Regions from separate parts of the Homo sapiens genome. Here all the other regions are linked to region 4. The links come from fine-mapping of genetic effects on gene expression. A gene starts in region 4. Each other region holds a variant in brackets. All regions are shown on one strand. Distances are from middle to middle.

Region 1 (6,393 bases), 30 kb after region 4:
ACGACGCTCACGCCTGTAATCCCAGCTACTCGGGAGGCGGAGGCAGGAAAATCGCTTGAACCTGGGATGAGGAGGTTGCAGTGAGCCAAGATCATACCACTGCACTCCAGCCTGGGCAACAGAGGGAGACTCTGTCTCAAAAATAAAAAATATAATAAAAAACAAAGCCCAGAGAGGTGCAGGCACTTACCCAAGGTCACGCGGCAAGTGACTGAAAGGGGTAGGACAGGGACCCAAGGGTGCTCACTCCCTGAGTCCGTGCTGTGGTCCCTCAAGCCTGCCCCTGGAGGCAGGTTGGAGGCCAGGATTCACGGCACAGTTTCTGCCCCCGTTGTACCACAGAGTGCTATGCAGGTTATTGGGATCCCGCCCAGCATCCAGCAGCTGGTCCTGCAGCTCGTGGCGGGGATCTTGCACCTGGGGAACATCAGTTTCTGTGAAGACGGGAATTACGCCCGAGTGGAGAGTGTGGACCGTGAGTGTGGGTATCAGGGAGGGCTGGATGGAGGCCTGTGGGTGGGTGAACTGCGTCCTCCTAGCTCAGCCCCCAGGAAGCTGAAAGCCCACGAGGAAAAAAATGTGGGTGTCACTGGGCAAGATGGGGATAATAGGAGGCCCATGCAGGAGGCACAAGAGCCCAACCAACTGTCCCATTTTTGCCCTGACCTTTGCCCTGGTAGTCCTGGCCTTTCCCGCCTACCTGCTGGGCATTGACAGCGGGCGACTGCAGGAGAAGCTGACCAGCCGCAAGATGGACAGCCGCTGGGGCGGGCGCAGCGAGTCCATCAATGTGACCCTCAACGTGGAGCAGGCAGCCTACACCCGTGATGCCCTGGCCAAGGGGCTCTATGCCCGCCTCTTCGACTTCCTCGTGGAGGCGAGTGGGGCTGGGGCTGGAAGGCAGAGTGGATGCTCTGGGGTCACAAACATTTATGGAAGCTGAGTGCAGTGGCTCACGGCTGCAATCCCAATGCTTTGGGTGGCTGAGTTGGGAGCATTCTTTGAGGCCAGAAGTTCAAGACCAGCCTGGGCAACATAGCAAGACCCCCATCTCTACAGAAATTTCAAATTAGTTGGGTGTAGTGGTGTGCATGTGTAGTTCTGGCTACTCAGAGGGCTGAGGTTGGGGGATCATTTGAACCCAGGAGGTTGGGGCTGCAGTGAGCTATGATTGCGCTATTGTACTCCAGCCTGGGTGACAGAGCAAGACCCTGTCTCTAAAAAAAACTTTTGGCCAGATGCAGTGGCTCATGCCTGTAATCCCAGCACTTTGGGAGGCTGAGGTGGATGGATCACTTGAGGTCTGGAGTTTGAGACCAGCCTGGCCAACATGGTGAAACCCCCTCTCTACTAAAAATTACCCGGGAGTGGTGGCACATGCCTTTAATCCCAGCTACTTGGGAGGCTGAGGGAGGAGAATCACTTGAACCTGGGAGGTGGAGGTTGCAGTGAGCTGAGATCGTGCTATTGTATTCCAGCCTGGGCAACAGAGAGAGACTCTGTCTCAAAATAAATAAATAAATAAAATAAAAACTTTTTTAATGTATGGAGTCAGCCTGGGCAACATGGCAAAACCCTGTCTCTACAAAAATACAAAAATTAGCCGGGCATGGTGGCTGGTGCCTGTAATCCCGGCTACTCAGGAGGCTGAGGTGGAAGAATCCCTGACCCCAGGAGGTTGAGGCTGTAGTGAGCCATGATCAAGCCACTACACTCCAGCCTGGACAACAGACTGAGACCCTGTCTCAAAATAAAAAATAAAAATAAATAAAGTATAAAATGTATGGCCAGGTGCAGTGGCTCATGCCTGTAATCCCAGCACTTTGGGAGGTCAAAGCGGGCAGATCACCCAAGGTCAGGAGTTCAAGATCAGCCCTGGCCAGCATGGCAAAACCCCGTCTCTACTAAAAATACAAGAATTAGCCGGGCGTGGTGGCGCATGCCTGTAATCCCAGCTACTTGGGAGGCTGAGGCAGAAGAATCTCTTGAATCCTGGAGGCAGAGGTTTCAGTGAGCCGAGATTGCGCCACTGGCATTCCAGCCTGGGCAACAGAATGAGACTCCATCTCAAAAAAAATAGAAAAGAAAAAGCCCCATAAGGTAGTTGCTATTATCAACCCCTTTTAAAGATAAGAAAATAGAGGTGCAAGGCCGGGCGCAGTGGCTCACACCTGTAATCCCGGCACTTTGGGAGGCCGAGGCGGGCGGATCACGAGGTCAGGAGATCGAGACCACAGTGAAACCCCGTCTCTACTAAAAATACAAAAAATTAGCCGGGCGTGGTGGCAGGCCCTTGTAGTTCCAGCTACTTGGGAGGCTGAGGCAGGAGAATGGTGTGAACCCTGGAGGCGGAGCTTGCAGTGAGCCGAGATCATGCCACTGCACTCCAGCCTGGGCGACAGAGTGAGACTCCGTCTCAAAAAAAAAAAAGAAAAAAA[A/G]AAAAAGAAAATAGAGGTGCAGAGAGGTTCAGGGGCAGAGTCAGCTCTGGAGTCAGGGACCCTGATACACTGACACTTGGGTTTCTCCTCTGAGTGACTGATTATGGGGTGGGGAGACTGTACACAGAGCCAGGAAGGGCAGAGCTAAAGAGGGCTGGAGGGAAACTGGCATGAGGGGACATCACCCATGAAGTTGGCTAGGCGTGTGTCTAAGGAGTGGTGGGCAGGGGCTTCAGATCTGACCGATGCCCACTGACTTCCTGTCCCCACCCACACCGCAGGCCATCAACCGTGCTATGCAGAAACCCCAGGAAGAGTACAGCATCGGTGTGCTGGACATTTACGGCTTCGAGATCTTCCAGGTACGGCCCCCTGCCTCCAGCCCACATCCTGTCCTCCCTGGGGCAGCCCAGGGTGGCCACAAGAACTTCCAGCACCAGGACATTGAGGGAAGGACCCTTTTCCTCCTTCTGCAGAAAAATGGCTTCGAGCAGTTTTGCATCAACTTCGTCAATGAGAAGCTGCAGCAAATCTTTATCGAACTTACCCTGAAGGCCGAGCAGGTGGGCGGCCAAGCAGTCAGGGATGGGGGATCCTGGGGTGGGGGTGGGGTGGAAGGACCATGAGGATCCCTTAGCAACTAGGGGACACCCCAGCCCTCCCCACCGCGTTCCCACCTCTCTGTGCCAACCTACCCAGGCTCCATAGTGATACTTCCTTCTGCCTCTAAAGCTTTGGGAAGGACCGTGCCTCTTAGTTCATTCATTCAGCAATTATTTATTGAGCACCTGTTGTGTGCCAGGTACTGTTTAGGGTGCTTGGAGACACAGCCATGAACAATAAGGCAATAGTCCCTGCTGTCTTCATTTTGCCCCTCCCCCAGAAGCAGAGCCTGAGGCAAGGATTCAGAGACAAATGGTTTTTCTGGGAGGCAATCCCAGGAAGCTCCAAGAGGAGACTGAGGAAGTAAGTCAGGGATTTTTTTTTTTTTTTTTGAGACAAAGTCTCGTTCTGTCACCCAGGCTGGAGTGCAGTGGCATGATCTCGGCTCACTGCAACCTCCGCCTCCAGAGTTCAAGTGATTCTCCTGCCTCAGCCTCCCGAGCAGCTGGGACTACAGGCACCCACCACCATGCCCAGCTAATTTTTGTATTTTTAGTAGAGACAGGGTTTCATCATATTGGCCAGACTGGTCTCAAACTCCTGACCTCGTGATCCACCCACCTCAGCCTCCCAAAGTGCTGGGATTACAGATGGGAGCCACCATTCCCCGCTTTTTTTTTTTTTTTTTTTTTTTTGAGACAGGAACTCGCTCTGTTGTCCAGGCTGGAGTGCAGTGGTGTGATCACAGGTCACTGCAGTCTACACCTCCTGGGCTCAAGCAATCCTCCCACTTCAGCCTCTCAAGTAGCTGGGACCGCAGGCACACACCATCATGCCTGGCTAATATTTTAAAACTTTTTTGTAGAGTTGGTGTTTCACTTTGTTGCCCAGATTGGTCTTGAACTCCTGGCCTCAAGCAATCCTCCTGCCTTGGCCTGCCAAAGTGCTGGGACTACAGGCATGAGTTAATATGCCCAGTCCTGAGACAGGGATTTTTTTAACAAAGAGAGAGAGAGAGGCTGGGTGCAGTGGCTCACGCCTGTAATCCCAGCACTTTGGGAGGCTGAGGTGGGTGGATCACCTGAGGTCAGGAGTTTGAGACCAGCCTGGCCAACATGGTGAAACCCCATCTCTACTAAAAATATAAAACTTAGCCAGGTGTGGTGCTGGGCACCTGTAATCCCAGCTACTCAGGAGTCTGAGGCAGGAGAATTGCTTGAACCCAGGAGGCAGAGCTTGTAGTGAGTCGAGATTGTGCCATTGCACTCCAGCCTGGGCAACAGCAGAATGAGACCCTGTCTCAAAAAAGAAAAGAAAAAAAGAGAGAGACAGACCGAGCCAGACACAATCACTCACACCTATAGTCCCAGCTATCTAGGAGGCTAAGTTAAGAGGATCGCTTGAGCCTGGGGGTTCAAAGCCAGCCTGGACAACATAGTGAGACCTCATCTCTACAAAAAACATAAAAATTAGCCAGGCATGGTGGTGTGCTCCTACGGTCCCAGCTACTCGGAAGGCTGAGATGAGAGGATCACTTGAACCCTGGAGGTCAAGGTTGCAGTGAGCTAGGATCGCATCGCTGAGTTCCAGCCTGGGTAACAGAGCAAAACCCGGTCTCAAAAAAAAAAAGCAAGCTGTGTGCGGTGGCTCATGCCTGTAATCCCAGCACTTTGGGAGGCCGAGGTGGGCAGATGTCCTGAGGTTGGGAGTTCGAGACCAGCCTGACCAACATGGAGAAACCCCATCTCTACTAAAAATACAAAATTAGTCCGGCGTGGTGGCACATACCTGTAATCCCAGCTTCTCGGGAGGCTGAGGCAGGAGAATCGCTTGAACTCGGGAGGCGGAGGTTGCGATGAGCCAAGATCGTGCCATTGCACTCCAGCCTAGGCAACAGGAGTGAAACTCCATCTCAAAAAAAAAAAAAAAAAAAAAAAAAGAGTCAAAATAGTGTGTTAATGAGCACGTTATGCTGTGGACAACCGGAATGCAACTGCACTGGGACTCGAGGAGGCTTCATAGAGCGGAGAAGCGAGGGAGCTGGGGTATTTATCCACCCACTCCTGTTGATTATTGGTCAAGGACTGCTGAAACCAGATGTAATTCCCTGGCACTTCCAGCCTTGCCCACATAGGAGTGACGGGCTTTGTTACCAGAGACAGTCCTAAGTGATGAGATGGAGAAGGGGAGAGGACATGGGGGGAAGGGTGGCCACAACTTTTTCACTGGCCCCCACATCCACCCCCTTTTCCACCCCAGGAGGAGTATGTGCAGGAAGGCATCCGCTGGACTCCAATCCAGTACTTCAACAACAAGGTCGTCTGTGACCTCATCGAAAACAAGCTGGTGAGGGCTGGGTCAACTTTGGCGGGGGCGTCTCACTGGTCCCCTGAGCTGAGTCTGGAAGATGAGGGGGAGGGCCAAGGGTGTTATGGCATCCTCAGGCCCTTCTCTACCCTACACTCAGGACTTCCAGCGACAGATAACAACCAAAATGTCCCTTCCGCCCCTCATCCATTCATTCCGCCTACTTGTCCACCTTTCACTTAATCATTCAATAAACATTTCCCCGGGAACCCCAGCTCACAGTTAGAGTCAAATTTGCAGATTCCATGCCGGTGGCTCACGCCTGTAATCCCAGCACTTTGGGAGGCCAAGGTGGGCGGATCACCTGAGGTCAGGAGTTCGAGACCAGCCTGACCAATATGGTGAAAACCTGTCTCTACTAAAAATACAAAAAATTAGCCAGGCGTGGTGGCAGGCGCCTGTAATCCCAGCTACCCGGAAGGCTGAGGTGGGAGGATCACTTGAGCCCAGGAAGTCAAGGGTGCAGTGAGCTATGATTGCACCACCACACTCCAGCCTGAGGAACAGAACAAGACCCTGTCTCAAAAAAAATTAAATTTAAGACGTATTTAGGCGGGACATGGTGGCTCATGCCTGTAATCCCAGCACTTTGGGAGGCCAAGGCAGGTGGATCACCTGAGGCCAAGAGTTCGAAACCAGCCTGGCCAACATGGTGAAACCCCATCTCTACTAAAAAATACAAAAATTAGCCGGGCATGGTGGCGGCATGCCTGTAATCCCAGCTACTCAGGAGGCTGAAGCAGGAGAATCACTCGAACCTGGGAGATGGAGGCTGCAGTGAGCTGAGATCACGCCACTGCTCTCCAGCCTGGGCAAGAGAGCAAGACTCCGTCTCTAAATAAATAAATAAATACATAAGGCAGGTCCCCCTACCAAGGGATTCTAGTCTGGGGCCTGAATCTCTTGAGGGGTCCCCACCCACTTCTGCACCTCAGCGAGCTTCCACAGTAGCCCCACACACCCTTGCCCCCCTATCCCTTCCATC
Region 2 (7,972 bases), 44 kb after region 4:
TCCCAGGACTTTGGGAGGCTGAGGCAGGTGGATCACCTGAGGTCAGGAGTTGAAGACCAGCCCAGCCAACATGGTGAAACCCCGTCTCTACTAAAAATATATATATAAAAAAAAAGGAGCTGGGTGTGGTGGCAGCTACTCGGAAGGCTGAGGTGGGAGAATCACTTGAACCTGGGAGACGGAGGTTGCAGTGAGCCGAGATCATGCCACTGCACTCCAGCCTGGCAACAGAGCGAGATTTTGTCTCCAAATAAAAATAAAAATAAAAATAAAACAAAATGCAAAACCCAAGGCAAACCTCTCAGGCATACACACAGTTTCCCTACCTCCAAAGTACATGTCTTAGCCAGGCACAGTGGCTCAGACCTGTAATCCTAGCTACTCCGGAGGCTAAGGCAGTTGATCGCTTGAGCACAGGAGGCTGAGGCTACAGTGAACTATCACGGCGCCACTATACCCCAGCCTGAGTGACAGAGGGAGACCCTGTCTCAAAAAAAATCACCCAGCCAGGTATAGTGGCTCATGCCTGTAATCCCAACACCTTGGGAGCCAGAGGTGGATGGATCACCTGAGGTCAGGAGTTCATGACCAGCCTGACCAACATGGCAAAACCCTGTCTCTACTAAAAATTATCCGGGTGTGGTGGCACATGCCTGTAATCCCAGCTACTTGGGAGGCTGAGGCAGAAGGATCTCTTGGATCCAGGTGGTGGAGGTTGCAGTGAGCCAAGATGGCACCATTGCGCTCCAGCCTGGGTGACAGAGCAAAATTCCATCTCAAAACAAAATAAAACAGAACAAAACAAAAAAAACAAACACCCAAGGTACCTATCTCCCCAAAGGACAAAAAGAAATGCTCTCATAAGGGCTCTGTTACTCAGTCAACAAACATTTACTGAGCACTTACTATGTGCCAAGGTAAGTGGTGAGTGCGGTAGACGTGAGAGCTCCTTGTCTTGGGTTCCAGGGTCAGGCAGACACCCCACATCAGTCCCACTAGTGTGGTGTGCACTAGTGGAGGTGCACACAGACCAGGGACATCTGGCCCCTGTGGCTTATCTGTTACCAGCCCTCACCCACCCCCAGTCTCTGTCTATTGGGACTGTATCCAGGGTGGAAAAAAGAGGGGCCAGAGGGTCCCATCTCTGTGCCCCCCACCCACCCGTCTTCACTTCTGCCTCAGAAACAAGCCAACGACCTGGTGGCCACACTGATGAGGTGCACACCCCACTACATCCGCTGCATCAAACCCAACGAGACCAAGAGGCCCCGAGACTGGGAGGAGAACAGGTGATCCCCCCCAACCAATCCAAGATTCATTCCCCCCAGGCCCTGCAGTTACCCCTAGAACTGACCGAGACACCTCCCTGACCTCCTGTAGGATGACCCAGGGACTAGCACAGCCCCTCCCACAATCCCCCACCTGCAGAACTGACCCCAGAAGGGACCATCAGGACAAGATCCCTCCCCCCAGTCCCCAGGCTGACCCCCGAAGCCCCCCCAGACCACAGAACTCACCCCCCAAACTTCCCTCAGCATGAATCCAGATCCCCCCAGGTCCCCCACCTCCAGCACCTCCCACCCACCCCCAGGACTGGTGACTCCCCACCCCGAGGGGACTCAGCCTACCCTCCCCACCAGAGTCAAGCACCAGGTGGAATACCTGGGCCTGAAGGAGAACATCAGGGTGCGCAGAGCCGGCTTCGCCTACCGCCGCCAGTTCGCCAAATTCCTGCAGAGGTGAGGAGCCCTCCACCCCCGCCCTCGCCATCCCCTTCATCAGAACGCCCAGCCAGGCCTGTCTGCTATGAGCACTCCCACACCCCAGCCCTCCGCCCTCAGGTATGCCATTCTGACCCCCGAGACGTGGCCGCGGTGGCGTGGGGACGAACGCCAGGGCGTCCAGCACCTGCTTCGGGCGGTCAACATGGAGCCCGACCAGTACCAGATGGGGAGCACCAAGGTCTTTGTCAAGAACCCAGAGTCGGTGAGTGTGTTTGAGGGACAGGCAGAGAAGGAGAGGGGAAGAGAGAGAAAGGTATAGAGAGGGACTGAGAGAGAGAGAGAGAGACAGAGGGAGACAGAGATTGAGAGAAAGACTGATAGATTGAGAAATTGAGAAACAGATTGAGAGAGAGGGATTGACAGAGAAACTGAGATAGAGGTTGAGAGAGAAATTGAGAAAGCAAGTGAGAGATTAATAGACTGAAAGTAAGAGACTGAGAGAGACTGAGCGAGAGATTAAGAAAGACTGCGACTGCCGGGCGCGGTGGCTCATGCCTGTAATCCCAGCACTTTGGGAGGCTGAGGAGGGCGGATCACAAGGCCAGGAGATCGAGACCATCCTGGCTAACACAGTGAAACCGCGTCTCTACTAAAAATACAAAAAAAATTAGCCGGGCATGGTGGCGGGCACCTGTGGTCCCAGCTACTCAGGAGGCTGAGGCAGAAGAATGGCTTGAACCCAGGAGGCAGAGGTTGCAGTGAGCCGAGATCACGCCACTGCACTCCAGCCTGGGCGACAGAGCGAGACTCCGTCTCAAAAAAAAAAAAGAAAGAAAGAATGTGATTGAGAGATTGAGAGAGAGAGATTGAGAGAGACACTCTGGAAGAAATAGACCAAAAATTTTGACATAGAACAGAAAAAAGGCAAAATAAAACTAGCACCAAGTCAGGTGTGGTAGCGCATGCCTGTAATATCAGTGCTTTGGGAGGCTGAGGCAGGAGGATGGTTTGAAGCCAGGAGTTCGAGACCAGCCTGGGAAACATAGTGAGACCCTGTCTCTACAAAAGACAAAAAGAAAAAAGAAAAATAACTATCACCAGCAAAGACTATATAAAGTAAAATTTAATTTAGACAAAAATTTCAGTCTATAGATTTTGATTTGGAGAAGACGGACGGGGTAGAAATAATGAAATTCACGATGGCAGATGCTTAGTGGTAAAATCCTATAAGAACATCAACAACAAAGACAGACTGAATATTTATAAAAGAAAGAAAATAATCCTGATGAAAATAATCTTGCTGGCCAGGCGCACTGGCTCACACCTGTAATCTCAGCAATTTGGGAGGCTGAGGTGGATGGATCACTTGAGGTCAGGAGTTTGAGACCAGCCTGGCCAACATGGTGAAACCCCTTCTCTATTAAAAGTACAAAAATTAGCTGGGCGTGGTGGTGCACACCTGTAATACCAGCTACTCAGGAGGCTGAGGCAGGAAAATCACTTTAACCCAGGAGGCAGAGGCTGAAGTGAGCCAAGATCGTGCCACTGCACTCAAGCCTGGGCAACAGTAATTTAATTTTAGTAAAATAAGCTGGGTGCAGTGGCTCACGCCTATAATCTCAACACTTTGGGAAGCCGAGGCGAGTGGATCACGAGGTCAGGAGTTCAAGACCAGCCCGACCAACATGGTGAAACCCCGTCTCTTCTACAAATACAAAAAATTAGCCAAGTGTGGTGGTGCGCACCTGTAATCCCAGCTACTCAGGAGGCTGAGGCAGGAGAATCACTCAAACCCAGGAGGCAGAGGTTGCAGTGAGCCGAGATCGCACCACTGCACTCTAGCCTGGGCAACAGAGTGAGACTCCATCTCAAAAAAAAAAAAATTAGTAAAATGAAAATAGAAGAAAAGGCCAGGCACGGTGGCTCACAACTGTAATCCCAGCACTTTGGGAGGCCAGGGTGGTGGATCACTTGAGGTTAGGAGTTCGAGACCAGCCTGGCCAACATGGGGAAACCCCATCTCTACTAAAAATACAAAATAAGCCGGGCATGGTGACACGTGCCTGTAATCCCAGCTACCTGGGAGGCTGAGGCAGGAGAATTGCTCGAACCTGGGAGGCAGAGGTTGCAGTGAGCTGAGATTGCGCCACTGCACTCCAGCCTGGGGGACAAAGTGAGACTCTGAAAAAAAGAAAAGAAAAGAAAAGAAAAATAGCCAACGGTTTAACTGTGCTATATTTAAAAAGTAATCAAGAAATTAAATTAGCTTAATGGAGTTGGAGCCTTTCTCAACCAAAAATGCATTCATGTTGGGATGAATTTTTTTTTTTTTTTTTAGACAGAGTCTCGCTCTGTCACCCAGGCTAAAGTGGAATGGCGCAATCTTGGCTCACTGCAACCTCCACCTTCCTGGTTCAAGCAATTCTCCTGCCTCAGCCTCCCAAGTAGCTGGAATTACAGGCACCCGCCACCACACCAGGCTAATTTTTGTGTTTTTAATAGAGATGGGTTTTCACCCTGTTGGCCAGGCTGGTCTCCTGACCTCAAGTGATCTGCCCACCTCAGCCTCCCAAAGTGCTGGGATTATATGCATGAGCCACCGCGCCCGGCCCCTATTTTGATTTTCTTATGAACATGGTTTGGGCCATCCTCAAACATTTTATCTGCCTGTTGGCCTTTGTGGCCCAGCATCCCAGGTATGTTATAATAGTCTGCTGGGACAGCTGAAACAAAGTTCCACAAACTCCATGGCTTAACACAACAGCAATTTATTCTCTCACAGTTCCGCAGGTCAGAAGTCCAAAATCAAGGTGTTGGCATGGCCATACTCTCTAAAGGTTTTAAAGAAGAATCTGAGGCTAAGCGTGCTGGCTCACGCCTGTAATTCCCAGCACTTTGGGAGGCCGAGGCAGGCGGATCATGAGGTCAGGAGATTGAGACCACCCTGGCTAACACAGCAAAACTATGTCTCTACTAAAAAAATACAAAAAAGTTAGCCAGGCATGGTGGCGGGCGCCTGTAGTCCCAGCTACTCGGGAGGCTGAGGCAGGAGAATGGCGTGAACCCAGGAGACGGAGCTTGCAGTGAGCCAAGATCGCACCACTGCACTCCAGCCTGAGCGACAGAGCAAGACTCCGTCTCAAAAAAAAAAAAAAAGAAGAAGAAGAAGAAGAAGAAGAATCTGAGGCTGGGCACGCTGGCTCACGCCTGTAATCCCAGCACTTTGGGAGGTCAAGGCTGGTAGATTCCTTGAGCCCAGGAGTTCCAGACGAGTCTGGACAACATGGCAAAACCCCAACTCTACCTCTCTACCAAAAAAATATATATATAATAATACCATAATTAGCCTTGAGTGGCTGAGGTGGGAGGATCCCTTGAGCCCGGGAGCCGAGATCGCACCACTGCACTCCAGCCTGGGAAACAGAGCAAGACCCTGTCTCTGAAAAAATTAAAACTATTTTGGTCAGCAGAGCAGGGAGCAAGGCTCTTAGCAGCAATGTGCTACCTATGGACTTGGGAAAGCACTCTGGGTGAAGTGCTAATTTTTCTAAATAAAGCCCAATTGTGTGTGTGTGTGTGTGTGTGTGTGTGTGTGTGTGTGTGTGTGTGTATTTTTTTTTTTTTCTGAGACAGGATCTCACTCTATCTCCCAGGCTGGAGTGCAGTCGCACAATCACAGCTCACTGCAGCCTCAACCTCCTGGGCTCAAAGAATCCTCCCACCTCACCCTCCGGAATAGCTGGGACTACACATGCGTGCCATCACCCTC[A/G]GCTAATTTTTGCTTAGTTTTTGTAGAGACGGGGTCTTTCTATGTTGCCCAGGCTGGTCTTGAACTCCTGGGCTCAACAATGCTCCCACCTTAGCCTCCCAAACTGCTGGGATTAGAGGCATGAGCCACCGCACCCAGCCTATATTTGCATTATTTCCCATCTTCACTAATTGACAATATTGTCCCTTTGATCACAGTTTCTCTTTGAAGTAGGATGTTTCTCAAGCATCTGCCCTATTCCAGTTAATCATTCTATTCTCTGACAGGCATGCTATTGTTTTTATTACTATAGATTTACAGTATTTTAATATCCAGTAGGTTCCTCACCTTGTTCACCTGCTGTTATTACAAATGAGTAGACATTCCTCTTAGACTTTGTACTTTGACTTGCTGTAATGTAATTCATTCTCTAAGTCCCCTCTGGGTCTAGACTTTTACAACTCAAAACCCTTTTCTCTGCTTTCTGCAAAAGCTTCCTTTCTGGGCCTGCTACGGATGGCTGTGCAGGTTGTACACTGCCCAACCACACGGTTGCTAGTCACATCACAGTTCTACACATCAGATTTTCTTTTTCTTTCTTTTTTTTTTTGAGATGGAGTTTCATTCTTTTCTTTTTTCAGGGGTCGGGGGACTGAGTCTCACTCTGTCGCCCAGGCTGGAGTGCAGTGGCGCAATCTCCGCTCACTGCAACCACCACCTCCCGAGTTCAAGCGATTCTCCTGCCTCAGCCTCCCGAGTAGCTGGGATGACAGGCATGCGCCACCACACCCGGCTAACTTTTGTATTATTAGTAGAGACGGGGTTTCACCATGTTGGCCAGGCTGGTCTCAAACTCTTGACCTCAGGTGATCCGCCCACCTCGGCCTCCCAAAATGCTGGGATTACAGGCTTGAGCCACTGCACCCGGCCACATTTTCATATTTACTGTATTTTATTGGTTTTCCAAGATGCACACTGGTTCCTATTTCTACCATCTCTGACACGGCAGTGTACCTCGTGGATAGTGTCGAGTAACAGTGTAAGAAACCGTGACATCATACCGTTTCTTGCAAAAGCACACAGGTAGTAAGTGGCACAGCTGTGATCTGAAGCTAGTGACTCACTGTTATCATGTAAGGCAGAAGTGTGTACCCCACATGGGGAGAGACGCACAGGGAGGTCCAGTCATTTGGAGGAAGATAAAAATTTTTCCAGCCTGGGCAACATGGCAAGACCACATCACCACAAAATTAGCTGGGCATGGTGGCTCACAGCTGTAGTCCCAGCTACTCAGGAGGCAGAGGTGGGAGGATCACTTGAACCCAAGAGGTTGAAGCTGCAGTGAGCTATGACTGCACCACCACACTCCAGTCTGGGCGACGGAGCGAGACCCTGTCTTTTTCTTTTTTTCTTTTTTTGAGATGAAGTTTTGCTCTTGTTGCCCAGGCTGGAGTGCAATGGCACAATCTCAGCTCACCGCAACCTCCAACTCCCAGGTTCAAGTGATTCTCCTGCCTCAGCCTCCTGAGTAGCTGGTATTACAGGCATGTGCCACCATGCCCGGCTAATTTTATGTTTTTAGTAAAGACAGGGTTTCTCCATGTTGATCAGGCTGGTCTCAAACTCCCGACCTCAGGCGATCTTCCCGCCTCAGCCTCCCAAGGCGCTGGGATTATAGGCATGAGCCACCAGCTTTTTTTGTTTTTGTTTTTTGTCTTTTTGAGATGGAGTTTCACTCTTGTTGTCCAGGCTGGAGTGCAATGGCGCGATCTCAGCTCACTGCAACCTCCGCCTCCCGGGTTCAAGTGATTCTCCTGCCTCAGGCTCCCGAGTAGCTGGGATCACAGGCATCTACCACCATGCCCAGCTAATTTCTTTTTGTATTTTTAGTAGAGATGGGGTTTCACTATGTCGGTCAGGCTCGTCTCAAACTCCTGACCTCAGGTGATCCACCCGCCTCGGCCTCCCGAAGTGCTAGGATTACAGGCGTGAGCCACTGCGCCCGGCCCCTTTTTCTTCTTTTCTTTATGAACGAGTGTCACTAGAAAGACCCCGCCTCTTAAAAAAATTAGCACATGTGTGGGGATGGGTGAGCAAAAGCGTGTGAGTAGGGTGAGCGCAGGGAAAACCCGGAACTGCAGCCCCTGGGGAGACACCAGGACTCACCCTTGCCCCCCACGACCCCCGCCCAGCTTTTCCTCCTGGAGGAGGTGCGAGAGCGAAAGTTCGATGGCTTTGCCCGAACCATCCAGAAGGCCTGGCGGCGCCACGTGGCTGTCCGGAAGTACGAGGAGATGCGGGAGGAAGGTGAGAGGCTTCGGGTAAACGGCGCGGGGTGGGGGCACAAGGACCTGGAGGAGCTGTATCAGGAGCTCTGCCCTCCACCCTCTGTCCCCGCAGCTTCCAACATCCTGCTGAACAAGAAGGAGCGGAGGCGCAACAGCATCAATCGGAACTTCGTCGGGGACTACCTGGGGCTGGAGGAGCGGCCCGAGCTGCG
Region 3 (7,972 bases), 53 kb after region 4:
CAGGTACACCCAGACTTGGCCTGTTTACCGTCACCTGTACCTGGGCGGGCCAGGTACACACTCACTTGACCCATATCTCATGTCCCAGAGAGTCACCTAGCCCAGTAACTCACCCTACCCTCACCTTAGAGAGGCCTATGTGTGGCAGGTACACACTGAGATCACCTATATACCATCTTTACCTGGATGGATAGTCTCATATGGCCTGGACACCCTCACCTACCTTGGACAAGTTTATGTGGCAGGTGCCTCCTCACATGATCTGTACAACTTCACATACCAGACACACATTATTGGGTACCTTCACCTGATCCACCCACCTGCTTTGGACAGGTCTGTGTGGCAGGTATGCCCTCTCAGGTGACCTGTATACCATCACCTTAAATGTTTTCACTGAGACAGGTATCCCCACTAGACCCAGAGAACTCTGACCGCAGGCCAGCTCAACCGGCTTGCACATTCACCCTTCTACCAGGTACACCCTCACCTGCCTTCCTGTACAAACTCATAGAGTTCAGATACACACCCGCTCACTTCCTCTCATGATCCAGATACTCCTATTTACCTGACTTGTACACCCTCACCTGAACCATAATACCTTTACCTGAGCTGGCTACAGTCACATGACCCAAGTACTTTCACCTGGTCTAAGTGTTCTCATCTGGCCCGGGAACCCATGTCCAGCAGGTGCCTTACCTACCCAGCACCTGTTCACTGACCCAAACACCCTTTTCTAGCCAACCAACCAACCAACACATTCCCATCTGACCTCGTTTCTTTTTTGTTTTTCTTTTTTGTTTTTTTGAGACAGAGTTTTGCTCTTTTGTGTGTGTGTGTTGAGTCAGAATCTTGTTATGTCGCCCAGGCTGGAGTGCAGTGGCACAACCTCGGCTCACTGCAACCTCTGCCTCCCAGGCTCAAGCAATTCTCCTGCCTCAGCCTCCCGAGTAGCTGGGACTACAGGCATGTGCCACCACGCCCAGCTAGTTTTTTGTATTTTTAGTAGAGATGGGGTTTCATGGTATTAGCCAGGATGGTCTCAATCTTCTGACCTTGTGATCCACCCACCTCAGCCTCCCAAAGTGCTGGGATTACAGGCGTGTGCCACCGCGCCTGATCTGTTATTTTTTGTTTGTTTGTTTTTGAGACAGGGTCTTGCTCTGTCACCCAGGCTGGAGTGCAGTGGCAGGATCTCGGCTCACTGCAACCTCATCCTCCTGGGTTCAAGCGATTCTCCTGTCTCAGCCTCCTGAGTAGCTGGGACTACAGGTGCCCACCACCTCGCCCAGCTAATTTTTGTATTTTTAGTAGAGACGGGGTTTCACCATGTTGGTCAGCCTGGTTTCAAACTCCTGACCTCATGATCTGCCCGCCTCGGCCTCCCAAAATGCTGGGATTACAGGCGTGAGCCATGGCACCCAGCCCTCCTTCTGTTTCTTATATAACAACTCATGGCCAGGCGTGGTGGCGCACACCTGTAATCCCAACCCTTTGGGAGGCCAAGGAGGACAGTTTGCTTGAGATCAGGAGCTCAAGACCAGCCTGGGCAACAGGGCAAAACCCTGAATCTACAAAAAATACCAAAATTAGCTGGGCATGGTGGTGCGCACCTGTGGTCCCAGCTACTCAGGAGGCTGAGGCAGGTGGATCACTCAAGCCCAGGAGGGGGAGGTTGCAGTGAGCTATGATGGCACCACTGCACTCCAGCCTGAGCGACAGAGTGAGACCCTGTCTACAAAACAGACGACTCATACACCTTCACCTGGAGGGCTCCCACCTTCCTCACCTGACCTGCCAGCACCACCCCTCTGCCTGGGGTGGATCCTCTGTGGCCAGGCTGGCCAGGCTACAGGCATCAGCCTCTAATCCTGCATCCCCACAGCCCATCAAGCGGGACTTGATCCTGACGCCCAAGTGTGTGTATGTGATTGGGCGAGAGAAAGTGAAGAAGGGACCTGAGAAGGGCCAGGTGTGTGAAGTCTTGAAGAAGAAAGTGGACATCCAGGCTCTGCGGGGAGTCTCCCTCAGGTGAAGCCAGGTCCTTACCTGCCGCACAGTCACTCTCACCTGTCCCCTGGCTGCCCTCATTCTAGTGACCCCGTCTGTTACCCTGACAATCTTACCTGGTGCCATGCCTGTAGCCCTCTGTTGGCCCCACCTGTCATGTTCACCTGCCCCCTATGCTCATGATCCTTAGATGCCAAAT[C/G]CTTCCGTCCTGCACCTTACCCTCTTACTAGACCTCACCTGGCCCTCTTCTGTAACCACCTCTTCCACTCCTTGCCACATCCCCCTTTTTCTCCTACCTGGTCACCGCTGACTTGGCCCTTAGCTGACCCTTCCCTAAATCCACCTTCAGCCACCTTCATCTGTCTCTCTCACCTGTCGCCCTCACCTGTGTCCCACCTGACGCTCTCACCCGCCCCTCCCCAGCACGCGACAGGACGACTTCTTCATCCTCCAAGAGGATGCCGCCGACAGCTTCCTGGAGAGCGTCTTCAAGACCGAGTTTGTCAGCCTTCTGTGCAAGCGCTTCGAGGAGGCGACGCGGAGGCCCCTGCCCCTCACCTTCAGCGACACGTACGGCCCCGCCAACCCCAGCACCATCTCGGGGTGGTCTCGGCGCGGCGCACCCTCTCCCGCCCCACCGACCCGGCCGAACTGCGCTTCGGCCCCGGCCGCGGCCCCGCCCCTGCCCCAACCAGCGAGAGTTGGGTGGGGCGGGGGACCTCAGCCAGCGCCCCCAAGCTTTCTTCTCTCCCCATAGACTACAGTTTCGGGTGAAGAAGGAGGGCTGGGGCGGTGGCGGCACCCGCAGCGTCACCTTCTCCCGCGGCTTCGGCGACTTGGCAGTGCTCAAGGTTGGCGGTCGGACCCTCACGGTCAGCGTGGGCGATGGGCTGCCCAAGAGCTCCAGTGAGTCTGCGCGGAACTAGGGCAGAGGGGGCGGGGCCAGCGAGGCTGGTTAAGAGTGGACGAAGGCCAGGAAGGGGAGTGTCTACAGAGAGAGAGAGAGAGACTTTTGAGTTTTGTGGTTTTTTTAAGACGGAGTCTCACTCTGTCGCCCAGGCTGGAGTGTTGTGGCACGATCTTGGCTCACCGCAACCTCCGCCACCCGGGTTCAAGCGATTGTCTTGCCTCAGCCTCCCGAGTAGCTGGGATTACAGGCGCCTGCCACCGCGCCCAGCTAATTTTTGTAGTTTTAGTAGAGACGGGGTTTCACCATCTTGGCCAGGCTGGTCTTGAACTCATTACCTCATGCTCCACCCGCCTCGGCCTCCCAAAGTGCTGGGATTACAGGCGTGAGCCACTGCGCCCGGCCAGAGAGACAGACTTTTAAACAAAGGCCGCAACCAATTAGTGGGCGTGAAATGTGGAGGAGGGACGTGGCCATGGAGGAAACCAATCAAAATAGTGGGGCGGGGCCAGCAGGCTGGACCAGAGAGGGCAACAGCAAGGAAGGGGCGGGTCTAGAGAGAGAGAAAGACTGTTAAGGAGAAGACATGACCAATGCGGGGGCGAGAAATGTAGAGGGGTGCGGCCAGAGCGGCAACCCTGGAACTGGGTAGTGATGAAGGAGTGACCTAAAGTGGGCGGGCCCAAAGAGCAAGGCCAGTGAGGTGTTGGGCCCTTGGGGGGCGAGGCCAATTAGTGGGCGGAGCCAGTGTAACTGTACCTAAGGGGCGGTGCTAATGGGAGAGCCTGAGGGGGCGGGGTGCGGCGGAGCCTCAGAATGGACTAGATTTGTGGGCGGGGCAAAGAGCGTGGTCTGTCTGTCATTCAACTCCCTGACACTCTTCTTTCAGAGCCTACGCGGAAGGGAATGGCCAAGGGAAAACCTCGGAGGTCGTCCCAAGCCCCTACCCGGGCGGCCCCTGCGCCCCCCAGAGGTGAGGAGCTGCGTCCCTTGCTATATTCCCTTGTCTGTTGTGGGTCCCATGGCCTAAGCCAGACCTTCAGCAAACGAAATCTAACAAACACAGTTTACCACTCACTTCTCTGTCCAGGACTCTCCGTAGCTCCACATCTCCCGCAGAATAAAGGCTAAACTTAGTTTGGCATTCAGAGCCCTTCAAAACCCAAACCCAGCTAACCACTGACATCTTCTCTCCTCCTACCCTACACTCCTGCCCTGTAAACTACATCTTTTTTTTTTTTTTTTTTTTTTTGAGATGGAGTCCAACTCTGTCTCCCAGGCTGGGGTGCAGTGGAGCGATCTCGGTTCACTGCAACCTTCACCTCCTGGATTCAAGCGATTCTCCTGCCTCAGCCTCCCGAGTAGCTGAGATTACAGGCACCCGCCACCACGCCCGGCTAATTTTTGTATCGTTTTAGTAGAGACAGGGTTTCACCACGTTGTTCAGGCTGGTCTCGAACTCCTGACCTCAGGTGACCCGCCCGTCTCGGCCTCCGAAAGTGCTGGGATTAACAAGCATGAGCTACGGCGCCTGGCCTCAAACTACATCTTATTTTCCCAATTCACAAAATTTATTCTTACCTCCAGGCCTTTGGGCCGTTTTCTCTGCTTCTCTCTCAAATTCCCATTCCATTCGTTGAGCTCTTATTTATCCACCAAGACGTACCCACAGAAGCTCTCCTACAGAGGATAGGAGGAGGGAAACTTGCCCCTGCAAAGCCACTCCTGGCCAGGCAAGATGGCTCACACCTGTAATCCAAGCACTCTTGGTAGGCCAAGGCAGGAGGATCACTTGAGTTCAAGATCAGCCTGGGCAACATAGCAAGATCCTGTCTCTACCAAAAATTCTTTCTTTTTTTTTTTTTTTTTGAGACAGTCTCGCTCTGTCACCCAGGCTGGAGTGCAGTGGCATGATCTTGGCTCACTGCAACATCCACCTCCTGGGTTCAAGCGATTCTCCTGCCTCAGCCCCCTGAGTAGCTGGGACTACAGGCGTGTGCTACCACGCCTAGATTTTTTTTTTTTTTTTTTTTTTGAGACAGAGTCTAGCCCTGTTGCCCAGGCTGGGGTGCAATGGTGCGGTCTCAGCGCACTGCAACTTTCCACCTTCTGGGTTCAAGAGATTCTCCTGCCTCAGCCTCCCCAGTAGCTGGGATTACAGGCATGCACCACCATGCCCAGCTAATTTTATCTTTAGTAGAGACAAGGTTTCACCATGTTGGCCAGACTGGTCTGGAACTCCTGACCTCGTGATCCACCCGCCTCGGCCTCCCAAACTGCTGGGATTACAGGTGTGAGCCACCGCGCCCGGCCTTTTTTTTTTTTTTTTTTTTGAGACGGTGTCTTGCTCTGTTGCCCAGGCTGGAGTGCAGTGGCGTGATCTTGGCTCACTGTAACCTCCACCTCCCAGGTTGAAGCAATTCTCCTGCCTCAGCCTCCCGAGTAGCTGGGACTACAGGCACACGCCATCATGCCTGGCTAATTTTTGTATTTTTAGTAGAGGCAGAGTTTCACTATGTTGGCCAGGCTTGTCTCAAACTCCAGACCTCGTGATCAGCCCACCTTAGCCTCCCAAAGTGCTAGGATTACAGGCGTGAGCCACCGCGCCTAGCCTAAAAATTCTTTTTAAATTAGCTGGGCATGGTGGTGTGTGCCTATAGTCCCAGCTATTTAGGAGGCTGAGAGGGGAGAATATCATGAGCCTAAGAGTTGGAGTCTGCAGTGAGCTATGATCTCACTGCTGCACTCCATCCTGGGCCACAGAGCAAAACCCTGTCTCTAAACAAATAAAAAATAAATAAGGCCAAGTACAGTGGCTCATGCCTGTAAAACCAGCATGTTGGGAGGCCGAAGTGGGAGGATTGCTTGAGGCCAGGAGTTTGAGACCAGCCTGAGCAACATAGTGAGACCCCATCTCTACTTTAAAAATTATAAAAATCAACTGGGCATAGTGGAGCATACCTGTAGTCCCAGCTCCCCTTAAAAGGAGGCTAAGGAGGGAGGATTGCTTGAGCCCAGGAGGTCAGAGTTGCAGTGAGCTACGATTGTACCACTGCACTCCAACCTGGGCGAGAGTGAGACCATGTCTCAAAATAAACAAATAAAAGTAAAAAATAATTGGCCAGGCGCGGTGGCTCATGCCTGTAATCCCAGCACTTTGGGAGGCCAAGGCGGGCGGATCACAAGGTCAGGAGATCGAGACCATCCTGGCTAACATGATGAAACTCCGTCTCTACTAAAAATATTTAAAAAATTATCCAGGCGTGGTGGCAGGTGCCTGTAGTCCCAGCTACTCGGGAGGCTGAGGCAGGAGAATGGCGTGAACCCAGGAGGCGGAGCTTGCAGTGAGCCGAGATCGCGCCACTGCACTCCAGCCTGAGCGACTGAGCAAGACTCCATCTCAAAAAAAAAAAAAAGTAAAAAATAATTTTAAAATTATGCTTAAAAAAGCTTCTGTCTAGGCCCTCCTAGCGGCAGAGTCCCTCCGTCTGGCCCAATCCTTACCACACTGGGTTGAGAGTGTCGCAGTCTCCTCCCTCAGCCTGAGAACTTGAAGCCAAGTCCTCCTCAAATCCTCCTAGCATCACCCTAATACATGTCTTCATCCTTGCTCCTGCCACAGGCATGGATCGCAATGGGGTGCCCCCCTCTGCCAGAGGGGGCCCCCTGCCCCTGGAGATCATGTCTGGAGGGGGCACCCACAGGCCTCCCCGGGGCCCTCCGTCCACATCCCTGGGAGCCAGCAGACGACCCCGGGCACGTCCGCCCTCAGAGCACAACACAGAATTCCTCAACGTGCCTGACCAGGGCATGGCCGGGTAGGTGGGGTGGGAGGGCAGCTCCAGGAGGTGGGCAGGGGGTAGGGGAGTGTCTGGGGCTGTGACTCAAACCCCCTGTGCCCACAGCATGCAGAGGAAGCGCAGCGTGGGGCAACGGCCAGTGCCTGGTGTGGGCCGACCCAAGCCCCAGCCTCGGACACATGGTCCCAGGTGCCGGGCCCTATACCAGTACGTGGGCCAAGATGTGGACGAGCTGAGCTTCAACGTGAACGAGGTCATTGAGATCCTCATGGAAGGTGTGTGTACCAGGGCAGAAGCTGGGGTGAGGGGAGTGGTAAGAACCCTGACATCGGCCGGGCGCGGTGGCTCACGCCTGTAATCCCAGCATTTTGGGAGGCCAAGGCGGGCAGATCACGAGGTCAGGAGATCGAGACCATCCTGGCTAACACAGTGAAACCCCGTCTCTACTAAAAATACAAAAAATTAGCCGGGCGTGGTGGCGGGCGCCTGTAGTCCCAGCTACTCGGGAGGCTGAGGCAGGAGAATGGCATGAACCCGGGAGGCGGAGCTTGCAGTGAGCCGAGATTGCGCCAACACACTCCAGCCTGGGCGATAGAGCGAGACTCCGTCTCAAAAAAAAAAAAAAAAAGAACCCTGACTGACATTGCCAGGCAGACCCCACCACTGCACACCCTCCCCACGGGAGAACAGAGATAACAGATGGGCGAGGTGGCTCATACCTGTAATCCCAGCACTTTCAGTGGCTGAGGCAGGAGGATCACTTGAGGTCAGGAGTTTGAGACAAGCCTGGGCAACCTAGCAAGACCCCATCTCTACAAAAGATTTACAAAAAAAAAACTTTTAAAGAGTAGAAATGGCCGGATGCAGTGGCTCACACCTGTAATTCCAGCACTTTGGGAGGCTGAGGCAGGAGGATGGCTTAAGCCTAGGAGTTTAAGACCAGCCTGGACAACATAGGGAGTCCCCATGAACAAGATGGACAGACCAGGCATGAGAGCTTTCTCCAGGGCCAGCTAGGGGCACCTCAAGCTTTCCTCTCTCCCACAGATCCCTCGGGCTGGTGGAAGGGCCGGCTTCACGGCCAGGAGGGCCTTTTCCCAGGAAACTACGTGGAGAAGATCTGAGCTGGGCCCTGGGATACTGCCTTCTCTTTCGCCCGCCTATCTGCCTGCCGGCCTGGTGGGGAGCCAGGCCCTGCCAATGAGAGCCTCGTTTACCTGGGCTGCAATAGCCTAAAAGTCCAGTCCTTTGGCCTCCA
Region 4 (7,972 bases):
CCACCTCCTGGGCTCAAGCGATCCTCCAGCCTCAGCCTCTTGAGTAGCTGGGACTACAGGCACATGCCACAACACCCGGCTAATTTTTCCTTTTTTTTTTTTTTGTTTTTTTGTTTTTTTGTTTTGTTTTGTGACAGAGTCTCGCTCTGTCTCCCAGGCTGGAGTACAGTGGTGCAATCGCGGCTCACTGAAACCTCTGCCTCCCGGGTTCAGGCAATTCTCCTGCCTCAGGCTGTCGAGTAGCTGGGATTACAGGCACCCGCCACCACGCCCAGCTAATTTTTATATTTTTAGTAGAGATGGGGTTTGATCACGTTGGCCAGGCTGGTTTCAAACTCCCGACCTGAAGTGATCCACCTGCCTCGGCCTCCCAAAGTGCTGAGATTACAGGCATGAGCCACCATGCCCAGCCTATTTTTTTCTTTTAATTAGTTTTTGTAGATGCAGTGCTCTCACTATGTTGCCCAGGCTGGTCTCAAACTCCTGGGCTCAAGCAGTCCTCCTGCCTTGGTCTCCCAAAGTGCTGGGATTACAGGCATGATACACTGTACCCGGCCCTTTTCTCATTACTAATGTGTCTGTGTTGGCCCCCAACCCTACACTCTCTCTCTTAAATCCTCAAAACAGCCTAGTGACATCGGTGCTATTATAAGCCCCCTTTGATAGTTGAGGAAACTAAGGCACAGAAGTCAGGCGTGGTTTGCTCACACCTGTAGTCCCAACTACTTAGGAGGCTGAGGTGAGAGGATCACTTGAGCTCAAGAGGTGGAGACCAGCCTGGTCAACATAGCAAGATAACATCTGTAAAAAAAAAAAAAAAAAAAAAAAAAAAAAGTAAATTTAAAAAGAAAGAAACCAAGGCACAGAAAGTCACTGGCCAGGAAGCACTGCAGGTCGTGTGTGCAGCCCTGCGGGGAGGGCAGCTGAGACCTGATTTTTCCTTCCTTCTCCCGTCCCCGCAGAGTGCAAGGATGTGAACAAGGTCGCCTACTGCCCCCTGGTGCTCAAATTTCAGTTCTGCAGCCGAGCCTACTTCCGCCAGATGTGCTGCAAAACCTGCCATGGCCACTAGGGGGCGCGCGGCACCCGGAGCCACAGCTGGCGGGGTCTCCGCCGCCAGCCCTGCAGCGGGCCGGCCAGAGGGGGCCCCGGGGGGGCGGGAACTGGGAGGGAAGGGTGAGACGGAGCCGGAAGTTATTTATTGGGAACCCCTGCAGGGCCCTGGCTGGGGGGATGGAGAGGGGCTGGCTATCCCCCCAGAGCCCCTCTTCAGCATCCGCCCCTTCCAGTTCACATAGTGAGACCCCCCCTCCAGGGTGGGTCTGGGGAGGGGACAGCTGTTCACCCCAGCACCCTTTGAACCCACCCTTAGGGAGTCCCCAACACTCCCCCCCTCCTTTGATCGGAATATGTACTGTGAAGAGTAGGGGTGGGGAGGTGGTCTGCCGGTGCCCTGCCCCCCAGCACTGCCCTACCCCTCCACTCCGAGCTGGGGGGGAATCTGTGTCTGCTATGGGAGGGGGGGGGGTAGCACCACCTCCCTGACACCCTCCCCTGACCTGACTAGGGGGAGGATCCACCCCAACCTCTGCCCTGCCCGCCCCAGGGGCACCCCGACATCCAGGCCACCCCCTCATGGTGCTACAGACCCTGCCCTGGGGCCCACACACTCCTGCCAGGAAGCCCTACATCAATAAAGTTCTGTCTTGTGTAGATTTCTACGAATTGCGGTGTGTGTGTGTCAGTGCATCCAGTAGCCCCCACCCAGGTCTGGAAAGGACCACCCATTCTCCCAGGTCTACCCAACAGCCAAAAGGGGACTTCTTTTTTTTTTTTCCTGAGACGGTCCCTGTCGCCCAGCTATGCCTATCATAGCTCACTGCAGCCTTGATCTCCTGGACTCAAGTGATCCTCCCACTTCCACCTTCTGAATAGCTGGGACTACAGGCGTGCACGACCACACCCAGCTGATTTATTTATTTTTTTTTTTTATTTTTTTTTTTTTTTGAGACGGAGTCTTGCACTGTTGCCCAGGCTGGAGTGCAGTGGCACGATCTCGGCTCACTGCAAGCTCCGCCTCCTGGGTTCATGCCATTCTCGCCTCAGCCTCCCGAGTAGCTGGCACTACAGGCGCCCGCCAACATGCCCAGCTAATTTTTTGTACTTTTTTAGTAGAGACGGGGTTTCACCGTGTTAGCCAGGATGGTCTCGATCTCCTGACCTCGTGATCTGCCCGCCTCGGCCTCCCAGAGTGCTGGGATTACAGGCATGGGCCACCGTGCCCAGCCAGAAGGGGACTTTTAACATTGCAGACAGGAACCCAGGGATTTTAGGAGAAAAGTACAACAGCTTCTCGTGGAAGGGTTTTGCTTTTTTGTTTTTGTTTTTTGAGACAGGGTCTCACTCTGTAGCCCAGGCTGGAGTTCAGTGGCACGATCTCAGCTCACTGCAGCCTTGAACTCCTGGGCTTAAACGATTCTCCTGCCTACCCTGCCAAGTAACTGAGATTATAGGTGCAACAGCACACCTAGCTGATTTTTTAATTTTTTGTAGAGACGAGGTCTTGCTATGTTGCCCAAGCTGGTCTGGAACTCCTGGGCTCAAGCGATCCTCCCACCTCAGCCTCCCAAAGTTCTGGGATTACAGGCATCAGCCACCATGCCTGGCCCTCACAGAGGCTCTTAAAGCCACACGGTCTAGCACCTGCCACCCTGGCCATCACACTCTCCGTCACTCCGCATGCTCCAGCCACACCAGCCTCCCCGAACTTCCTCAATTGCCCTATGGTTTTCCCATATCTGGGCCTTTGCTTGAGCGCTTAGCATGGCCAGGTGCACGCTCCTGCCCCTTTACCTTTTTTAACTCCAGCTTACTCGCCGGTGTCAGCACAAACGTTGCCTCTTCCTAGAAGCCTCCCCTGATGGCCCCCAACAAAGTGGGGTCCTCTTACCCATTCATATTCACTCTTGAGTGCCTGGAGACATTGCTGAGAATTGCATGCCCCAAGCCCGTCAATTCTGCAAACTCGCTCAGGAGATTCCAGCAGAGACGGGCTCCTTCCCAGCTGTGGCCACTAGGGGCGCTGCATATTAACATCTTCAAGGGGGATGCGGGTTTATCGCCCTGGACCAAAGATAGATCTGAACATGGGTCCCCCAGGGTCTCCCAGGGTCGGGTCCTGCCTCGGCCACCTCCTTGCTGGGTGGTGTGGGGAAGTAACAACCTATTAGAACTGCCATTTCCTCACATGTCAAGAGGAGCCTCAGGTGGTTGGCTGGTGTCCCAAAGACCAGCTCATAGGCTGACACGTACCTGGGCCAGGCTCTGCTGGGGGGACCCACGTTCCCATTTTACAATGAGAAAAGGGAGTAACTAAGTCATCCAGGAAGTAGCCAAACTGGAGGCTGTTAAATCTAGATGTGACATCCAAAGTCAGGGACCTTTCAGATGCACCTGCTTCCCAGTACCCTCCACTTCTGCACACAAACACGTGTGACTTCTGAGGGTCATCTAAAGAGGGAGGTTGGGCCAGGCGTGGTGGCTTATGCCTGTAATCCCAGCACTTTGGGAGGCCGAGTTGGGAGGATCACCTGAGGTCAGGAGTTCAAGGCCGGCCTGGCCAACATGGCGAAATTCCGTCTCTACTAAAAATACAAATATTAGCCAGGTGTGGCGGTGGGCACCTGTAATCCCAGCTACTCAGGAGGCTGAGGCAGGAGAATCGCTTGAACCCAGGAGGCGGAGATTAAAGTAAGCTGAGATTGCACCACTGCATTCTAGCCTGGGTGACAGAGCTAGACTCCGTCTCAAAATAATAACAATAATAATAATGAAGGAGGTTGCCCAGGGATGCCCAGAGCAGACACAGCTGAAGAAGGCACCCTTCCCTGTTGTTGTTGTTTTTTTGGTTTTTTTGTTTTTTCTGGTTTGTTTTTAGAGACAGGGTCTCACTCTTTCGCCCAGGCTGGAGTGCAGTGGCGCAATCAGGGCTCACTGAGGCCTCCACCTCCCAGGTTCAAGCAATCCTCCCACCTCAGCCCTCTGAGTAGCTGGGACTGCAGGCTCATGCCACCATGCCCAGCTAATTTTTTTTCTTTTCATTTTTTGTAGAGATGGGGTCATGCTATATAGCCCAGGCTGGTCTCAAACTCCTGGACTCAAGCGATCCTCCAACCTTGGCCCCCCAAAGTATTGGGATTACAGGCGTGAGCCACCTCCCCTGGGCCCCTTCCTTGGTTTTAAAAAGAGACCCGGGAAGCCCAAATGCTTCCTGAATCGCCCTGAAAAGAGGTGGTTCGTCCTGCAGCCAGCTGACCCAAATGTTCCTGCAGCAGCCCTGTCCCCAAGGAGTTGGGGAAGAGGCCTCTGAGGTCCAGTAGTGGCTGCCATCAAGTTCTGACCCCTCCCTTCAGGCTCAGAGCCCCAAACAGCCAGCTCCCCGCCCCCCTCCACACCCAGCTTCCCTCCCCCATGGCCTCGGCCCCTCCCGCCAAAGGAAGTGAGAAGGGGCTGTTGTAAGAGGAACTAAAGCCGGGAGTCCGGTGAACGGGCAGAAGCAGGGCCATGCCCAAGCCACCCCCAAGATCCCCCTGAACCTGCACCTCCATCACGACCCATTCAGGAGCCTCCAGGAGCCCAGACACCAGCCCCCCACCATGGTAAGTCCTTCAAGGGTGGGATCTGGAAGAAGAAAGAGGAGGGACACCAGCCAGGTGGAGGTGTCCTAAAAATGACCATCAGAAATTGGGGTGAGGGGAGGGGCATGGTGGACTTCTGTGGGGGTGGGGTGTCTCTCAGTGCAGCTCAGGTGCCTCCAGCATCCCTTACCAGGGAGCAAGCTCCCATCTGTAGGTGGTGGGGATGCCAGGGTGGTATCCCTGGATCCAAGGATAGGGCAGGACCTGGAAGACAGAAGGTGGCCCAGGGAGAATCACAGAGTCTGCAGGGACAAGGACATAGCCTCCTTTGCTTGCAAATTAAGGGAGCCCTTTCCCAGTCCAGCCCAGTCTCTCGTCTCCCTGTGTAGCCTTGGGCTAGTCACTTCCCCTCTCTTGGCCCCGGTTCCCACAGATGTCATATTTGGAAATCCGTCTAGATGCGGAAGTTGCTCTTCAGGGGTCTTTCAGTTGCAACATTCTCAAGGTCTGTGGGTTCTGCCACAGAGTCCTCGGCTGAGATGGGAAGCTATGTCTAACAAGCGATGGGGTGGATTGACGCCCTCCCTGTGCCGGTGACGGGCGGTATGGCTGCAGCAGAGGCAGGAGAGGCTGAATACGTCCATGCCACCCTTTGGTGGGCATCCCTTATCCCAAGAGGAGGATGGCAGCCAGAGGTGTTGCTGCCTGTCAAGTCTGAGGTCTGTCGATGATAGCAACGGGGAGACTGTCGTGATCATGGCGCTATTCCTAGCAGTATCGTACCACCATAAGACGCAAAGTAAGAGGTGGCCAGGGCTGACCCCACCCCACAGCTCTCTGCTGTGTAGACCACTTCAGCTTTCATTTCTCGTCATTCAGTCAGTGAGGATGAGAGCATGTGGCTGTGACAGCGGCCACTGCAGGATTCTTGGCAGGTACAGCTTACTAGGGTGGAGTCAGGGACATAGGGCAAGAGGCAGAGGTGGTGTTAGTCTGAGAGACAACACCTTCTTTCAGGAAGCCAGTGAGGGCCAGGGACAGTGGCTCATGCCTGTAATCCCAGCATTTTAGGAGGCTGAGACAGGTAGATCACTTGAGGTCAGGTGTTCGAGACCAGCCTGGCCAACGTGGTGAAACCTCGTCTCTACTAAAAAATACAAAAAATTAACTGGGCGTGGTGGCACACGCCTGTAATCCCAGCTACATATGAGGCTGAGGCAAGAGAATAACTTGAACCCAGGAGGCGGAGGGTGCAGTGAGCTGAGATCCTGCCGCTGCACTCCAGCCTGGGTGACAGAGCACACTCCGTCTCAAAAAAGGAAAGCTGATGAGAAATTGGGCATCCCGGAATTCACACCCAAACCATCAGCTGGAGCTCTGAGACTGTTGGGGTGGGAATTCTTCCAAGATGAGAAGCAAGCCAGGGAGGCTCAGGTCCTGGGATGGGCAGGGCTTTGATCAAAAGAACACAGGAAGTGATTTGCTACTTGAAAGAAAGGCAACCCCTCCCCAAGGAAGCCCTCTGAAAATGCTTAGTCAACAGTCGGCTTGGCAGACAAGGTCTGGGAGGGGCCACCCGTATCGCAGAGGATGATAGAAGAGAAAAAAATGACACCCACCTCTGTCTGGGGATGCTGAAATCTTCCTGGAGGAGTGGTGAATGCCAGGAAGATCGCTGAAGGATTCAATGAAACAGTATTTCTGAAGTCCTTTACAACAGGGTCCCCAACCCCCGGGGTCATGGACTGCTATCGGGCCATGGTCTGTCTGTTAGAAACCATGAGCCCTATCGGGTCACAGAGCAGGAGATGAGTGGCAGGCAAGCAAGCCCGAGCTCCACCTCCTCTCAGATTCTCGGGGGCGCCATTAGATTATCACAGGATCGCAAACCCTGTTGTGAACTGCACACACGAGGGATCCAGGTTGCATGCTGCTTATGACAATCTAATGCCCGGCCGGGTGCGGTGGCTCACACCTGTAATCCTAGCACTTTGGGAGGCCGAGGCGGGCAGATCACGAAGTCAAGAGATAGAAACGATCCTGGCCAACGTGGTGAGACCCCGTCTCTCCTAAAAATACAAAAATGAGCTGGGTGTGGTGGCACATGCCTGTCATCCTAGCTACTCGGGAGGCTGAGGCAGGAGAATCGCTTGAACCCGGGAGGCGGAGGTTGCAGTGAGCCAAGATCACACCATTGCACTACAGCCTCGGCGACAGAGCCAGACTCCGTCTCAAAAAAAAAAAAAAAAGAAAAAGAAAATCTAATGCCGTTGGCAGGGTGCAGTGGCTCATGCCTGTAATCTCAACACTTTTGGAGGCCGAGGTGGGCGGATCACCTGAGGTCAAGAGTTCAAGACCAGCCTGGCCAACATGGCAAAACCCTGTCTCTACTAAAAATACAAAAATTAGCCAGTCGTGGTGGTGCGCGCCTGTAACCCCAGCTACCCGGGAACCTGAGATAGGAGAATCACTTGAACCCAGGAGGCAGAGGTCGCAATGAGACGAGATCACGCCACTGCACTCCAGCCTGGGCCACAGAGAGAGGCTCCATCTCAAAAAAAAAAGAAAGAGAGAGAGAAAGAAAGAAAGAAAAAGAAAGAAAGAAAGAGAAAGAAAAAGAAAGAAAGAGAGAAAGAGAAAGGAAGAAAGAAAGAAAGAGAGAAAGAAGAAAGAGAAAGAAAGGAAAGAAAGAAAGAAAGAAAGAAAGAAAGAAAGAAAGAAAGAAAGAAAGAGAGAGAGAGAGAGAGAGAAAGAAAGAAAGAAAGAAAGAAAGAAAGAAAGAAAGAAAGAAAGAAAGGGAAAAAAGAAGAAATAAAGGAAAAGAAAGAAAAGAAAATCTAATGCCCCGCTCCATGGTCCATGGAAAAATTGTCTTCCATTAAACCGGTCTCTGGTGCCAAAAATGTTGGGGACCATTGCTTTACAGAGCACATAACATGCACTTGATCCATGGTAGCTGCCATTAGCTGGGATGTCCATTCATTTCTGGATTCAGCAATGAGGATGGACGGAGGTGACGATTGTGGTAATTGGGGAGGAGTTGCTGCGAGTGGTCATTGCTGGGTTGTTGGTGTCATTGGTTGTGGTGGTGGTTGTGGCTGTTTCTTGTTGCAGGTTCGTGGTGATAATGGCTCTTGCAGGTGGGCTGGTGGTGGTGGCGGTTGGTGTTTAATGTTGTTCGTTGGTGGTGGATTGTTTTCAGCTGGAAATTCTGGAGATGCTTGGTGACCAGTGGAATGATGACCATCGGTGGTTGCTGTTATTTGGAGAGGAAAGGTGTTGGTAGTAGCGTTCATTTGCTGCTGGTAGTTTATTGTTGGTTTCTGGTAAGATGA

The links.
Region 1: its variant is fine-mapped to the expression of MYO1F in whole blood (TOPMed, PIP 0.90).
Region 2: its variant is fine-mapped to the expression of MYO1F in whole blood (TOPMed, PIP 0.98).
Region 3: its variant is fine-mapped to the expression of MYO1F in whole blood (TOPMed, PIP above 0.99).

Annotation. Positions count from the first base shown.
Region 1 is chr19:8,544,644-8,551,036 of GRCh38, reverse strand. MYO1F (myosin IF) reads left to right here. Exons shown (of 28, transcript NM_012335.4): 9 at 343-475; 10 at 681-877; 11 at 2,720-2,800; 12 at 2,915-3,001; 13 at 5,301-5,387. LOC124904633 (a long non-coding RNA gene) reads right to left here. Exons shown (of 3, transcript XR_007067131.1): 3 at 3,712-4,952. Among named protein-coding and RNA genes, the nearest start is that of MYO1F, 30 kb to the left of the region's middle. The variant A/G (reference allele first, on the strand shown) is at 2,439.
Region 2 is chr19:8,530,266-8,538,237 of GRCh38, reverse strand. MYO1F (myosin IF) reads left to right here. Exons shown (of 28, transcript NM_012335.4): 17 at 1,183-1,289; 18 at 1,641-1,739; 19 at 1,842-1,986; 20 at 7,665-7,779; 21 at 7,873-7,972. All of the region lies in intron 1 of LOC124904633 (a long non-coding RNA gene), which reads right to left. Among named protein-coding and RNA genes, the nearest start is that of ZNF414, 20 kb to the right of the region's middle. The variant A/G (reference allele first, on the strand shown) is at 5,494.
Region 3 is chr19:8,521,394-8,529,365 of GRCh38, reverse strand. MYO1F (myosin IF) reads left to right here. Exons shown (of 28, transcript NM_012335.4): 22 at 1,883-2,028; 23 at 2,431-2,577; 24 at 2,765-2,913; 25 at 3,804-3,887; 26 at 6,537-6,732; 27 at 6,820-6,989; 28 at 7,762-7,972. The coding sequence ends at 7,838. LOC124904633 (a long non-coding RNA gene) reads right to left here and starts at 2,921. Exons shown (of 3, transcript XR_007067131.1): 1 at 2,822-2,921. RefSeq lists enhancers at 2,638-3,613, 6,190-6,689 and a silencer at 3,654-3,733. The variant C/G (reference allele first, on the strand shown) is at 2,207.
Region 4 is chr19:8,573,993-8,581,964 of GRCh38, reverse strand. MYO1F (myosin IF) reads left to right here and starts at 4,523. Exons shown (of 28, transcript NM_012335.4): 1 at 4,523-4,658. The coding sequence starts at 4,656. It overlaps ADAMTS10 (ADAM metallopeptidase with thrombospondin type 1 motif 10), which reads left to right. Exons shown (of 26, transcript NM_030957.4): 26 at 963-1,725. The coding sequence ends at 1,072. RefSeq lists silencers at 1,136-1,185, 2,997-3,191, 4,412-4,561, 5,099-5,148 and enhancers at 5,269-5,448, 5,619-5,678, 6,019-6,078.